3 separate regions of the Homo sapiens genome follow, and all the other regions are reported to be linked to region 3. The links are microRNA targets in miRTarBase. Many come from high-throughput screens and were not tested one by one. Region 3 holds a microRNA gene; each other region holds the end of a gene's coding sequence.
The links. Region 3 holds the annotated microRNA hsa-miR-197-5p (CGGGUAGAGAGGGCAGUGGGAGG, at 3,583-3,605, opposite strand). A microRNA usually pairs through its seed, bases 2 to 8, with sites in the 3' UTR of a target mRNA and lowers its output. Matches are read on the target gene's strand: a 7mer-m8 pairs with bases 2 to 8, a 7mer-A1 pairs with bases 2 to 7 and ends in A, and an 8mer does both.

Region 1: the mRNA of NFIC is a reported target of hsa-miR-197-5p. Seed matches in the 3' UTR shown: 8mer at 1,864-1,871.
Region 2: miRTarBase lists AHCYL2 as a target of hsa-miR-197-5p. Seed matches in the 3' UTR shown: 7mer-m8 at 2,595-2,601 and 7mer-m8 at 1,910-1,916.

Annotation. Positions count from the first base shown.
Region 1 is chr19:3,462,302-3,467,376 of GRCh38, reverse strand. NFIC (nuclear factor I C) reads right to left here. Exons shown (of 11, transcript NM_001245002.2): 11 at 1-4,625. The coding sequence ends at 4,608. Among named protein-coding and RNA genes, the nearest start is that of SMIM24, 16 kb to the left of the region's middle. RefSeq lists enhancers at 1,184-1,684, 1,685-2,185, 3,767-4,302, 4,303-4,838 and a silencer at 3,115-3,315.
Region 2 is chr7:129,426,190-129,431,264 of GRCh38, reverse strand. AHCYL2 (adenosylhomocysteinase like 2) reads right to left here. Exons shown (of 17, transcript NM_015328.4): 16 at 4,702-4,822; 17 at 1,054-4,226. The coding sequence ends at 4,220. Among named protein-coding and RNA genes, the nearest start is that of STRIP2, 5.7 kb to the left of the region's middle.
Region 3 is chr1:109,597,431-109,602,505 of GRCh38, reverse strand. MIR197 (microRNA 197) reads right to left here and starts at 3,613; the gene lies at 3,539-3,613. GNAI3 (G protein subunit alpha i3) reads right to left here. Exons shown (of 9, transcript NM_006496.4): 9 at 2,311-5,075.

The DNA.
Region 1 (5,075 bases), not on the chromosome of region 3:
TCAAATAGGGCTGGGTCTTCCTACTCCTCCATGCCCCATCTCCACCCGGGTCATTGTCAGGTGCCCCCACGGAATGGGGACAATTTGCATATATTTGGGAGGCCTCCCTATTCTTTCCCACAGCATGGGCAGACCCCAGAATGAGACTGGGGTGGGGGGGGGGGCCTGGCATAGGTGTGGTGTCCATAGCAGGGGTGGGTGATGGGGGCTTCCAGAGGGGGGTGGAACAAGATTTGAGAAGATGTCAGTTTCATACATGTTAAAAAAACAAAAACAAAAAACCAACACTCCCTCCTCCACCCAGGGATGACGGCACCCCCTTTTGTGAACCCAAACTGCAGAGATGGGCACGGAATCCTGCTTCCTGGTGTTTTTGTCTTACTCTGTCTGCAGCAAGGCGCCTGGGAATTTTGCCCTACAGGGACCCTGTAGCTTTTCCAAGAAACAGGGAGGCGGGGAGAACTAAACCATCCACAACATGCTGCCTGGTATGGGCTTTTGCCTGCTGTACTCAGCCAAGGTGCCAAGTGAGCCAAGGAGGCAAGCTCGGGGTGAGAAGGGTGGCGTCCAGCCCAGGACTCTGGGCCCCCGGGTGTGGGCTGTGCAGGGACGCGATGGTCCCAATAGTGATGGGGCCACCCACTCCCTTTGCCTCCGGTTGCTCCTAGTTCCTTGGCAAGACAGATTTGCTCAGGAGTGGGGCAGAAAAAAAAAAAAAGCTAGAAATCAGCTACATGAATGCTGTGCACAGCCAGCCCGGGCTCTCTGGCCAATGCATATTACTTAAGGGCAATGTCGTGGCCAGCTGTGGTGGTCTGGGCTCTCCCTCTGTATCGCCTGGGGAGGCTGCTGAGGTGACTTTTTGGAAGAAAACACGGGATGAGTGTATGATGGTGGCTGTGGAGACCACCCAAAATCCCGGGGTTGGGGGCAATAGTGAATGAATGGGACCATCTGCGTGGGTCCCTACACGAGATGCTTGGAGGGGCTGGAGGTGGTGAGGGCTGCAGGAATGGCCTAAGGTTGGAGAATCCCAGCCCTGGGTCCTCCCTGCCTGGCTGCCCCACTAACCATCTGGCTATTGTCTTAGCTTTGGTCAAGTAAAAAGCAAAGGAAGCTGGAGTTAAAAACAAAAAGAAAAGAAAAAAAAAAAGAACAAAAGAAAATAAAATCAAGGACAAGACAACAGCATGCTCAGCCACCGGACCACAGCCTGTGACTCGGTGCCACCTGGCTGTCCCTGTGCCCTGCCGGACCCTCGGCTGGGCCTCCAATGGCTGAGCCAGGCCCATGGGTACAGACAGACAGACAGATATTGCATATATCAGGTTTTGTTTTTGTTTCATACAGGATACCCTTCATATTCACAGCTGGAAGACAGAGACAGGGGATGGGGGACAAAGGAGAAGGTGGGAGAGAATGCCACCTGGGGTGGTCTCTGGATAGGGGAAAAGAGGTCCTTTGGCAAGAAGGGTGGGGATGCACGGGGCAGGGGAGAGGGGGTGCCTCTGAGGTGGGTGTGGAACAGCATTTGACCCTGAGCCAGGGGTATGCCAGCCTGCATGAAAAGTGGGGAGCGGGGAGTCTGGCTGCGGGTGGAGTGGCCACCCCATGGTTGGAGGACAGCCTGCAGTGGGTCGGTGAATGGTGTCTGGGGGCCGGCCCGTGGCCTAGGGACCAATCAGAGAGGAGAGCCCTTTCCCAGGGCCAAGATGGGCCCCGGAGGTCTGTCCTCTGGGCAAGGGATTCAGAAATGACCCCTCTGGGTACCCAAGAGCAGGGTTGGGGGTGGTAGAGGCTGAGCACCAGGGGGCACCCCTGAATACAGCAGGAGGGGAGACAGGACCAAGGACAGCCAGGGGCTGGGTAGACCTGGGGGCAATTGTTTTCAGTGGCTTGATTTTTAGCGTGGTTTTTCTTCCTTTTTTTTTTTTTTTTTTTTTTTTAGATTCTCACTTTCTTATTTTTTATTTTATTTTTTTTACAAATAGAAATACATCCCTTTTCAATTTTTATTTTTTATTTCATGTCACTGTTTTGTCTTTTTTTTTTTAAACTACACGAGCAGAACATGCAGCTATGTGTGTGCGCTGATATTGTTTAAAGGTAATACTTATTCTCGGAAGGCAAGGCACATCTTGTGGTAGAAAATTTCGTGCAAATTAGGAAACATGGAATTTTTTTAAAGGTTTTTCTTGTATCTTTTTTTTTTTTTTTTTTTTTTTAAAGAGGAAGTGGGGGGTGGAGGGGGCGAGGAACAGGGAGATAGAGCCAGGGATAGTCTGCCATGCATGTGTGTCAGCGCCGCCAGCTGACCTCGGGAGCCAGGTCGCAGGAGTCCTTGACTAAGCACCATGCAAAGTTAGGTAAAGAGTTGGTTCTCGTCGCGCCCTGACCCCTCTGGAGCCCGGCTGGCCTCCCTCCCCCACTCCACGACCCCCACCCTGGCTGAGAAGCTTCCGGACACCCCAATGGCACAACCCGACCACCCCCTCCCCCGCCCGCCCTCCCGGAGAGCGGCCCACGCTTTGATCCCCAAGGGCCACCGGGGGAGCGGGCCCCGAGGACAGACGGACGGAGGGACCAAGGGCTCGAGGCCAGAGGATGGCGAACCTCTCTTGGGGGTGATGGGGGAGGGTCCTGGGTCTTTCTCTTTAGGAGCGAGCGGGTTCGCCAAGCTCCTGAGGCTAGTTTGGGAGGAGAGTCTGGTTTTCGGGGGCAGGGGGGTGAGGCTAGGAGCAGGTGAGACCCGGAGACCTGCCCTGGCTTTGGCCTGGGTCGGGGGAGGGGGCAGTGGTGGGGGGAGTTTTTCCCTAGGCATGGAGGTCAGTTGGGGCTGGGCTGGGTGGGCCGGGGAGGGGTCCTTGTGTTTGAGCTCGGTGGCCCTAAAACACCTAACACCCCCTCCCAGGCCTCCCCTAAAGATGGCGATCCTGGGGTGGGGGTGGAGGTGTGGATAGGGCCAGGGAGCCGGGGTGGGGGGGCACCTGGCGTCCCCAGCTTAGTGTTTTTGGAGCGGCTCAACGGAAAAACGCTTAGCAGATGGGAGGCCCCCTACACGGCTGCGGGGGGCCCCAAGGTGCGACGCCGAACCCCCCGAAAACCCTCCCCGTTCCGAGCGGGGACCGCTGGCGTCGGCCTCCTCTCTCCTCTGGGGGCCCAGCCGTGATGCACGTCCCGCAGCTGGGCCCCGCGTCGGGGTAGGCGATGAAAGTGCAAACGGCGGTCCCCCTTCGCTGGGAGGCACCAGGGAGGGGGGTCGCTCCAGAATGTAAGGCACTGGCAGCGGAGGCGTGGGGGGCGCACCGGCTTCCCCAGAGCCCACCCCCGCGCCCCGGCAGGGCAGGACGCTTGCGAAGTGACGCCCAGCTCTGCCCCTCGGGCCACGCAGGGGCCCCATCTCTCTAGCTCTGGGGGGGCACGGCGATGAGGGTTGACTGGAGGGGCTGGTGGAGAGGCTGGAGGGGAGGGGGAGGAGGCCCGCGGCCATTCCGTGTCCCAGCTGGACAAAGGGGGGGGCGGGTGGTGGTAATCAGGCACTTAAACCACTCGCTCTCACCTCCCACCGCCAGGGGCTGACGGGGGCGCTCCAGACGGGCACCCCCAACTCGGGGAGCTCTGGGTGTCCGGGCTCCCCCATCCCCTTCCTCGGAAAGTGCATTTCTTACAGTGTGTGCAATGTGGGTCCCTCCCTTTGGGGGTGTGAGCCGGGCGAGGTGGGGGGGCCTCCTATGCCGGGGGTGGGGGGTGGAGGGGCCGGGGCCAATTGCATAGAGACTTCTCCTCCCAAACGGGCGGGCGCGAGGGCTGAAAGAGTCCCCAGCGAGACAGCGAGTCGGCCGGCGCTTTGGGAGGGGCTTGTGGGGAGGCCCCGCGGCAGGCAGGGCCCCCTCGAGGGGCAGCAGGTGCCTGGGCCTCACTTCCTCCCCTGGCCAGGGCTCGCAAGCGCCACGCACCCCCGCGACACCACTCGCCTGCCCCACCCTGCCCGCCTCTGCGGTCTCCGCTGCCCGGCCGGGGTCCGCTGTGTCTCCCTTTCCCCCCAGTGGCTGCGTCCTCGGTGGGGGCTGAGGGGCCGGTCCGTGTCCGGCAGAGGCGCGGGGGCCCGGGGAGAGGTGGCCTTGCTGGGTGTCGCGCCTGTCGGCCCTGGGCACAGGCTCCAGGCTGTGCTCACCTGGTCTCCGGACAGAGCCAGGGCCTCCGGGGCGCGGGCGGGCGGCCGGCGTCTGTCCTTCCCGAGCAGCAGGCGGAGAGGAGATGAATAACTTAGGAAGACGCCCTGTCCCGGGTCTCCCGTGGGGGTGGCGGGGCCTGGCCCTCCAGTCCTGCGGCCTTGGCGTCCCGAGAGTTGGAAACGTTGCGTCTTTACCTTTTGTCTTCTTGCTTGGGTGGGTTTTTATTTCTTCTTCTTCTTCTTCTGCCTTTGTTTTTTCTTTTCCTCCTGAGTGTGTGCGTCTATGTGTTTTGTCTTTTTGGCCGGGCTGGGAGTCGGCAGGGGTGTTCTTGTTCACTCTAATTTTCCACCGAAAACGTGGGCCGGGGGCCGGCTGTGCTGCCCCCTGGGATTCCTGGGACGATGGAGAAGGGGCGAGGGAAGAAGACCTTTGCTATCCCAGATACCAGGACTGAGTGGCCCAGTGGCGACAGAAAGAGGGAGAGAGAAAAAGGGAGAGAAGTCGAGGGGTCAGACTCTGCTGCAGACATGGTTTACCTCTTCCCACGCTCACCCCCCACCTCCTGCAACCCTGTGACCTCAGTTTCCCCATCCCAGGCTCTAACAACCTGCTGGGTGACCCATGGCAAGTGACTTTGTCTCTGAGGGAGGCTTCCAGACACAGTACAGGATGCCCAGTGAAACTGGAGTTCTGGTTAACACAGAATTCTTTTAGTATAAGTCTAGCCCACGCAACATTGGGGATATACTTACACACCACACACAAAAGATCCATTTATCTGGAACTGTATTTTATATTTTATTTATTATTTTATTTTTTGAGATGGAGTTTCGCTCTTGTTGCCCAGGCTGGAGTGCAATGGCGTGATATTGGCTCACTACAACCTCTGCCTCCTGGGTT
Region 2 (5,075 bases), not on the chromosome of region 3:
CCTTATCCTAGGAGATAAGCAGTATCCATTTCACAGGCAAGAAAATTGAGGCTGTGAGTGGTTATGTAATTTGACTAAGTTACATAACTTGTAAATGGCAGAGCTGGGATTCAAACCCAAGCTAGCCTGCTTTAAAGTTCAAGTTTTTTTGCACAATATTGTGAGGTGGAGAAACTTGTGCAGCAGTGGATAGCTTGGGCTTACCCTATGATTCTGAAATAAAGACCCAGGCACCCAAGGTTCCATCCTTCACAAATGAGGAGTCAAGCCCTACTGCAGGGGAGCAAATCCTTTGAGCTGACCGGCTTCATTGCTAGCTGCTGCATTCTCCTCCTCTTAACTGGAATGGCACTAATTTTGAGGATTACTGACTGCCCAGACGATTCTAGCCCTGTGTCCCTTAATCTAAATAATCAGAAGCCAAAGTGGCAGAAGATTCTGCTATGAAAAGAAAACATCTTGCATACAGGATGCAGAACTAGTTTAGGTAGTCAACTAAAGAAGGTGGCTATCAGAAAGCTACCCAAAGATGGTTACCCTACTGGCAGTTGAGAAAGAATAGGCAATTGGATTATCCTTTGGTTAAATCAGGCAACTTGATTTAGAGACAAATCTCTGCCTGATGCACTTCTTTCTTCCCTTTGGCTGGATATAATCAGGTCCTAGTTATCAAGGTCCTTTGGTCCCAAACTGGGGGATGCTGATTTCCTGCATTTTTCAACTAAAAGGGAGTCAGGGACCTAGAACTATGGTTTAGTTTCTCTGAGTTAAGCCTACAGTCCTCGACTCCCCAGGGTGGTGGTTCTGAGAAGACAGGTTCTTTACACACACAGCCAGGATGCGCGTGTATGCTGGCTGGTAGGAGGGGAACATGATATTTATTAACTAAGGTCAAACATGCCTATTGGTAACATTTTCACATCCTAAGGTCAAACATGCCCATTGGTAACATTTTCACATCCTTGCCCTACAGCAGGATCTCTAGTTTGTTGCCCAGAGATCTCTCTCATCTCTGAATTTCTAGTTCACAGAAACAAGAAATACCCTTAAGAGTCCATGTTAAGAATATTTTATTTGTTTTTTGAGATTACATAGTCATTATTGCTGATCTAATACAATCACTTAGACATAAAGATTTCCAAGAACTTCTCAGAAATGGTGATCTTTAGAAGTGTTATTCCTTTCAGTAAGATGACAGAACTAGATGATTACGTATATAGATATATAGATATATATATATATATGTATATATAGAGTTTAGAACCTGTCCACATATAATTTGCTGGTGTTGCCTATTTTCCTTCCGTAATTTTCCTTTATTGAAAAAGCTTAATGCAACAATGCATTTTGATTCCTTTTTAAAAACCACGGCAAAGTTAATTTTGAGAAAACCACAGGAGCAGCAATATCAGATCTGTTTAGAGAAAAGCGAAGCAGCATAAAAGCTTTGCAGGAGTATGTGGCCATGGGGAGCCGTGCTCATATGGGCAAGTAGGATAGGGAGGGAGGAGAGCAGAGGGAAGGTAGAGTAGATACATTTTTTTTCTTTGTTTAAATGAAAAAAAGAAAACTGAATATCTCCATTAAGAAGGCAAAAAAGTGCCAGGCACGGTAGCACACACCTGTGGTTCCAGCTACTCAGGAAGCTGAGGCAGGAGGATTGCTTGAGCCCAGGAGTTTGAGACCAGCCTGGGCAACATAGTGAAACCCTGTCTCTAAGGGTGAAAAGAAAAGAAAGAAAGAAGGCAAAATATTAGCACAGATTCATTGTAGAGAAAATGTTATGTATCCTCACAGACTGGAGCCACATACAAAGAGATAAGTAGCCTTCTTTCCCATGCTTCCAGATAACCAGGATGCATCTAAGGTAAGAGGTTGGAGGAAAGAAGACACATTGCTCTGATTCCAAGGGTAGAGGGAATAATGACCAGATTTCAACCCTAAGATAGAACCCAAATACTTGGGAGGCTTGTGGTTCTTTCTTCTTAATGGTTGATAACACAGTGTCCCTACAGAGAGGTCATCTGAAACTCAGAGGCAAATAACTCATCATGGGCAGCAACACTGGCAACCTAACTTAGAAGCCCCGTGTGGCCCCTTTTTTATTTGGAGTGGGTCTCTTCACTACAGCAAGGCAGAATGTACTCTTTAAGTACCAGCACATAGTAAGCTCCAGAGAGCAAGGCTTTGCTGAGAAACAGCAGGTTATGATTTTTGGTCTAAGAATACAATAGGCTAGAGACCATCTATCTGCCAAATGGAATCTGCTCTGGATATAAGATAAGGTACAAAGATCTGAATCCCTTGCTAAAGGGAACCAATTAATACAAAAATCAGGACTAGGTAGGCAAAAGGAAGAACTGAATGGCTTAGTGGAATTTTTAGCATTTATGATCTTCCTTACAAAAAAAGAATATAACCAGTACTTGCTGAGACATATGGCCTCTGAAGAACTGTAGTCTATGGGCTGAGCCTGTATACTATTAAATGAGGCAAACAGTCATTTACCAAAGTTCCACTTCCCTACTTCCGAAAGTAAGGTCACTTTCAGACTAGCTTTGAGAGTATATGTGAAGACCAGGAGAAGTTGGAGAGGGTAGAGGTAGAAGAAGAGAATCAGGATGGGAAGGTTTTGGTGATCATGCGTGGTCTGGTGTTATCTTGAGTCACCTTGGTCTTGAGACTTTGAGGCAGACCAGCATAGGAAAAAAGTGGGAAACAAACAAACCTGAGAGTGTTAAAAAGGATCGGTAAGGGGAAGAGGCTTATTTAATTCAAGTTTCCTAGGGCCAGTCCAGACTAACTCTTAGAACCAATCTGGTCCTAATGAAATGCCTGAGACCAACAGATCAGTCTCCAAAAGGAATCCAATTTTTGGGTGGGACATAAAATGTCACGCTGCCCACACCACATTACTAATTCTTTTTGTAGCACTGGAGTTACTCAAGAAACTGACTCTGAAATACAGAATCATCAAATGGAAGAGGTTAAATCATAAAAGATATGCCAGCAGAGAAGTCCACAGATCAGACTGCAGATCTCGGTTTCATCCATGGCAATGGCCAAAGGAATGAATGTCTGACGAGGTTCAAACTAGTCAAATTAGCTTTGATAATCTGGATACAGTTTACAATTTCATCTCTGTATCCCTCAGCCAGTCAAACTGCAATGGCCTTCCTGGGAAACAAATAAATATACTCTGCTTTGTTAGGGTATCAAGCTGTGAGTCTGAAAGACCTGTCCCATTTCCAAAGCCTATCCCCCTAAGTCCCTGGAAAAGTATGCCTTTCCCTACTCAGTTTCAGACGTAGCTTTAGGCAATAGCAGGAAGTTTCAGGAAGCAGTGTTTCACAACAAGCTCTCCTTTTCTGAGATAGTGCCAATCTGGAGGGGCTTCCTTGGAAACTATCCAATCAAATGACAAGGAAGTAAAACTATGGGTCCCAGTGGAGCTGGCCCCACTTCCTGAGCAGACGTTGGCTGGATTAGAAAGACAGCAGAACAAATGTCTGACAAATACCAAAACTGTGGAGGAAATAATGGAGGCACATCCCTCTTGCAACCAGGAAGTGTTAAAATGGACATAAATATTCAAGGAGAAGAAAGGAGTCCTGGGTAAGAAAGGAGACCCCTGGTAGGCACAGCACAGCTGAGTTCTTGATGTAGCTTGGCAAAGCCATAAATAACACTCCTTCCTTATTAGCCTTTATATAAAGAAGGCAGTGATAGTGATGGTCAAGATTGGGAACCCAATCTTGTGTGAAACACTGGCCATGTTAATTCCAAACGGCCTCACCCGGGGAAGGGCCAAGCTGAGAAAAGCAGGTGCTGAAAATTTATTCCAGAAAACTCCAGGGAATAGGGAGTATGGAATCCCTGGACTAACTCGTGAGCCTGGACAAGAGGAAAAACGGCCACTGCTGAGGATTCAGTCAATGGGGAATGATGCAAATGATGCACTGGGAGCAGTAACCCCATTTCTTTCCTTCCTCAGCCCATCCTCTGTGGCTTTCATGGCCCTCAGGGCAGTAACCACACTCTGGGCCAACACTACAGGCACAGGATTCTTGATTTTAATAAATAAATAACCTAACACACAGGGTGAGCACGGCAGGCAGCTTTGATTGGAGAAGCAGCTTGCTGAATTCTTTCTTGTATAGTAGTGGAGAAAAGGCTTGGAGTTCTATTCCTTAAAAATTCTGGTTTGAGTTACAGGAACTTAATACCTGGAGGGAAAAAGAAAGATGAGACTGTGATGTTATCAGCTAATGGGGATGCTGGGACATGAAGAGCCTGCCTAAAGGTGTAACAGGGAGGCAGAGACTTTTCTGGAGTGTACAGTGACAGGAAATAACTGTGTTTCCTTTTCACATCATTGAAAAAGGCCAATATTTCTCCATAAAGAGATAAAAATCATAGCAACAAGATGAAATGGGGAAAGGAATTGAGGAAGGGGAACTTTATTTAATGAGGCAAATAGCCACTTACCCAAACTCCACCTCTCTATCTCCAAAAGGCAAATTCAGGAAGGGGAATACTATTTAAGGCCTTGAAGAGTCTTTTGAAGGTGGCAGTGAGGGGAAGTGGGTTCATTTTTCTGAGTTCATGTAAGCATATGTGGTTGGGGATGCAAAGACCAATTCCAGTGCAGGAAGCTCATCACTGCCCAGGTGTCCCTGATTTCTGGGGAGCCCAAGGCACCTGTAGTAATTAGGCTTGAAGGGCCCATTCTTGTTGAGTCCCAGATACTTGGCCTGTTCATCTGTCAGCTCTGTCAAGTGGGCATCAAAGGTAGGCAGGTGTAGGCTGGCCACATACTCATCTGGAACAGACCACAGAAGCCCTGGTATAAGCATTCATGCCTTTTATCTGATGGCTATTGTCCCCAAGCTAGGCCTTAAAAAGTTCAAAGACACCTTCTAATTCCTGGAGCTGAATGAAAAATGTTCAACCTTCGCTCACTGGTCCTCAATTCTAAGGAATAGCTGCCTTCAGCTTCAAGCCCAGTGCTTTCCAAAGCCTTAATAATTCATCCTTACTAACTCAGCTTTGAACCCTGCCTTCCAGAAAAGTGC
Region 3 (5,075 bases):
ATAAACCTGCCATTCCCTTTTTACTAACAGACCTCTATGTGCCTTAGCTCAGAGATCTGGATCACTGGATAGGAGATGCGAGTTTGTTAGTTTCTAAGGCACATCCCAAAACGATCATCTTTATTAAGCAAACATTATCCCTCTGCCCCCAGGCTATCAAACAGACCTTTATCTCTACAAATGTTTCTTAGCTACATAAGATACTTCCTGAATAAACTTAGAGGACATCAAATACTCTCATTTAGAGTATTAATGAATGTATTGCTGCCGCCTCTCTATCATAGAATTTGGAACAAGTGAACAATTCTAAACTTTTCAACTGCTACGTGTTTCAGAAGAACCAAGACAGGTGAGCTTGTTTTAGGCACTGAAAATCTTTGCAGTTGGGTCCATGTGATGGTGGATGAAAACATCTCCCCAAACACGCCAAGAAGTTTTCCTTTGAACTCCTTTGAGGGGAAATGAAGTTTGCATTTATCTTGACAGAAGGGGATGAAGTTAAGTATATAGATTTAGCATTTACAACTACCAGTGAGGAAAGCTCTTGGCATCCAAGATTTAGTACATAGAAGAAAATGTCAATTAAAATGGAAATTGCTCCTTGCCAGAAACACCCACTCACACTTAGGCTGCTACTAGCAATATTAATACTAGAGAGCCATATGAGCTTGAAATACACTTAAGAATAAATTTGTAGCTATAAAAGTTAAACTCATTTAATAGTCTTTCTGATTCCCTAAAAAGAAAGCAGCTTGGGAGAATTATCCGAGAAACTACTCTGGCTACTGCTGATGAAAAAACTCAAGCCAAAGAACAAACCTGGCTGGGCACGGTGGCTCACACCTGTAATCCTAGCACTTTGGGAGGCCAAGGCAGGTGGATCACCTGAGGTCAGGGGTTTGAGACCAGCCTGGCTAACAGGGCAAAACCCCGTCTCTACTAAAAATACAAAAATTAGCCAGGCGTTGTGGTGCCTGCCTGTAATCCCAGCTATTCAGGAGGCTGAGGCAGGAGAATCACCTGAACCCAGGAGGCGTTTGCAGTGAGCCAAGATCATGCCACTGCACTTCCAGCCTGGGCGACAGTGAGATTCCATCTCAAAACAAAACAAAACAAAACAAAAAACCTGGGAAAGACTTCTCATATTCAAGAGCTGTTCAGGAACTACTCTGAATATCATGCTCCAACCATTACTAATCTGTTCACTTTAACTCAACATACAGGAGTTCTGAATCTGTTTTGTATCATGGATCCTTCCGGCAATCTGATGAAACCATGTGCCTCTTTTCATCATCATATTTTTAAACACGTAAAATTAAATTCAGAGAAATACAAAGAAAACTAGCATATCAAATAGTCTCTCTGTAGACTCGCTGGAGCTCTGAAGCCCCAGGTTAAGAACCCTTACTATACAAGCTATGATCTTGTCTATTCAGGCCCCAAACATAATTTATCCCATTTATTCCATCTCCAAATAGGATAGCCCTACTTTCCCTCAAATAGTACCAGATTGTTGATTATTTTATTAACTTTTCCTTGGTCTTTCAATCTAGGTATAAATTGGTTATTGACCAAACTATAAGTCTAACTCAGGATCCTTGGTTATTAATGTTCACACAGAACCTGCCTTATAGTACTAGTACAGAAGCAGAGCCAGTGGGACAGGTCTTCTGACAGGTCTTAGGTCAGAACACAAGTCTCTAGCAGACTAAAACATGGTTGTATTTAGTCCTCTTCTTTTGGGATAGCTGGGGGATATCCCAACTTTTAACTGGTTTATCAACAAACTCACACAAGCCACCTTGTACAAACATTATGTAAAGTGTTCATCTTGGAGGATAGAGCAACATTCTATAGCTGTTTTTTTACTGAGTTTGGGATCTGCCTATATTCATCTTATGATGTTTTCAAGCTAAAACTCTTCTGGCAAGTCTACATGAAATGCAACAGGGGCCCTTGAGCACCCATTCACCTATTACCTTAGAACACAGTCAGAATAATTTTCTCAAACCCTTGGTCCAGAATGGGCTCTCCCATGATTAAAGGTAAGAGGACTTCACCTCGATGCTCTTGATAGGCTTCCAGAAAAGGCATTCACCCTTACCCTAGCTCAACTGTTTGTCAGGCCCAACGATTGTTCCCAAACCTTACATGTTAGAGCTGCAGAAAAAGTGCATTTGTACTTTTCCTGCACAATTAGCTTATTTTTATCTCATGGACATTTTGATTGTATTCATGAAAAGTTCTTATATAAAACAGCTATAAGAAAGATTAAAATAAAAATTAAGTCATTATCTTTCTTTTGCCTCATTTTAAATTTACACCGTACTGTTGAATTTTTATTTACTTTAAGCCATCAAGTTTTTTTTTTTTTTGTAACCAGATCAGAAACAAATATTTAACCCTATTTTCTGGCATGCAACCTTAATTCTTAAGACTGCTAAAGTTAGAACAAACTTAAAAATAGTCCAGCCCCATCACTAGCAATTTATAGATCAAAAACTGAAGCCCAGGAAGGAAGAGTATCTTCATCAAGATCACAACGCTAGGCAGTAGCAGAACTAGAACTCCAGAACAGGTCTTCTCAATCCAAAGCCTGTGATGATGTCCAGCTACCAACAGAGCACCATACACTATAAAATCAAAGCCAATTTCTTGTTCTTCTAAGCTCCTCCCATTCCCAACCAAATTCTTGGTCATTTTTTCATTATGCCGTCTCTAAATCGTGGACATTTAACAAAACCACCTCCAAGCTAAGACAAATAGATCTCAAAATAGAATATGAAAACAGCATAAAATCACAAAAATATAACTAAGTTTGCTTGTTTGTTGAAGGTAAAATTTCCTCTTCATATTCTTAGAGGGAGAGACCATAATGTACTTCCCTAGCATAGCATGATTAAAGAGACATTACTAACAGTAAATCAAATGTAAATTACGTTACATTTCACATAAATCTGATAGTTTTCCTTTTTTAGACAAAAATACAATATGATTGACACAAAAGGACAAATACTATGATTCCACTTATATGAGGTATCTAAAATAGTCAAATTCATAGAGACAAAGGAAAATGCTGGTTACCAGGGGCTGAAAGAAGGTGGGGCATGGGGAGTTACTGTTTAACAGGTACAGAGTTTCAGTTCAGGAAGATGAAAACAAGTTCTGGAAATGGATGGTGGTGATGGCTGTGCAACAGTGTGAATGTACTTAATGCCACTGAACTGTACACTTAAGATGGCAAATTTTGTTATATATGCTTTATCACAATTTTAAAAATAGAAAAAATATACTATAATTAGAAATTTGTATTTCTGTGGATAAAAGGAAGAATGGATAAAAGCGGCACAAAAGTTGTCTTAAAAGCAACATAAAAGACACATTAACTTGAAACAGTTCCTACTCTGGTAATAAAATCCACTCACATGTACCTCCAAATAGTCCAAAACAGAGTATTCCTTCCCATCCCCACGGTGAGACATAACAGCATTCAAAACCCACTCTATACTTGGAGATGTGCCGTAGACCAAAGTGTGCCGGCCATGCTGGGTGGAGAAGGTGGTGAAGGGTGAAGAGCTCTTACCTCCCACTGCCCTCTCTACCCGGCACAGCCCCCAGAGCACAGATTCCAGAAGGATTTCGGTGTTGGGCCAGGGACTGCAAGTGTGACAGAGCCTCTGGTGGTCCTGCTAGGTAAAAGCATGAAAACATTTCTGTGAGGTCAGAAGACACTGGAGACTGCAGAAGGGAACTTTTCTGTCTTTTTGCCATGAAAAAGCACTAGTATAAGCAGAAAATAGACAGCTGGATTTAAATGTAAAACAAAGCAAAGACCTTTTCACCCTGCTTCACGAATTTTAGAGCAATTTATAGTTCAACTTCATTTCAGGTCTTCAAAATGAATATGGGCAAAGTAATGCTGTAAAAGACCACCCACTACGTTGAATACCTTTGTTGGTGCTGCCTTAGGATTTTTTTTTTTCTGTGCAGTATAATCCTGAGTATCATAACATTTACAAAGCATTTTCAAATATGTTATTTCTATCTGATGAGAACCACAGAATATCACAGCAGGAAGGAATAATTTAGTCCATCTTTAGATAACAGATGAGTGATTTAAGACTGAAAGAATACACAAGATTCCATAGCTGGTTGGAAGCAGAGACAAGACCAGAACCCAGCATTCCAAACAACTCTCCAACCTCGTAAGATTCTGAGAGGTCTCAGGACCTTTATCCTACATGAGCAAGAATAAACAGAACAGGTGATTTCTTGTGTTTTGTTGTATCTACTGGAAATCTCTCTTACATATAAATAAGCATCTTAGTAAAAATGTCTGGATAACCTAAGGAGAATTTTGGGCGTAGGGAGAGGTAAAAGATAAGAGGAGACAGATAAACCAGGTTGTTCATAATTTAATATTCCTGCTGTCACAGATTTTATAGCTTAGTGAATGCTGGTACACTGAGATACTTCTATCCCAGCAGTGTATTAATATTTATTATTTGATTATTTCTGGTACCTTGTGATTCTCACTAGATTTCAGGAAAACACTAGCACTGGGCATACAAAGGCTTTTACATGTGACTCAATCATTCCCCTTATATACCCCCGTACCCATTTCAAAACGACTTTCATTCTAGTTTAGAGCTAGCTAGCTTTGCTTTCTCTACCAAGTGTAAATAAATATTCATGTTATTACATATACTGTTATCTGTCACAGGGTTTTATCTTTAATTTGGTGTATCTTTCAATTTTCACTGCATAAATAAATGCAGTAAAATAAATGAAATGAATGTTTGGACATCCTAGGTTTCTTGTTGTCTTAATTTTGTATAAAACTAAATACTCTGTATCCAAAGTGTAGGAATGTTATGTGACCCAACAGTTTTCAATAATTTTCTTGGTGGAAGGCACTTTAAGTCATGTACAAATGGTACTTCTTATTGGCAAAAAATAGATCACTCACTAGTGATTTTGAGCTTATTTGTGCACTGAAGTTGCTTATTTTCAATATTTGTGTTGACTTTAAAAAAAAACAAAAAAAAAACAGACTCACTCTGTCGCCCAGGCTG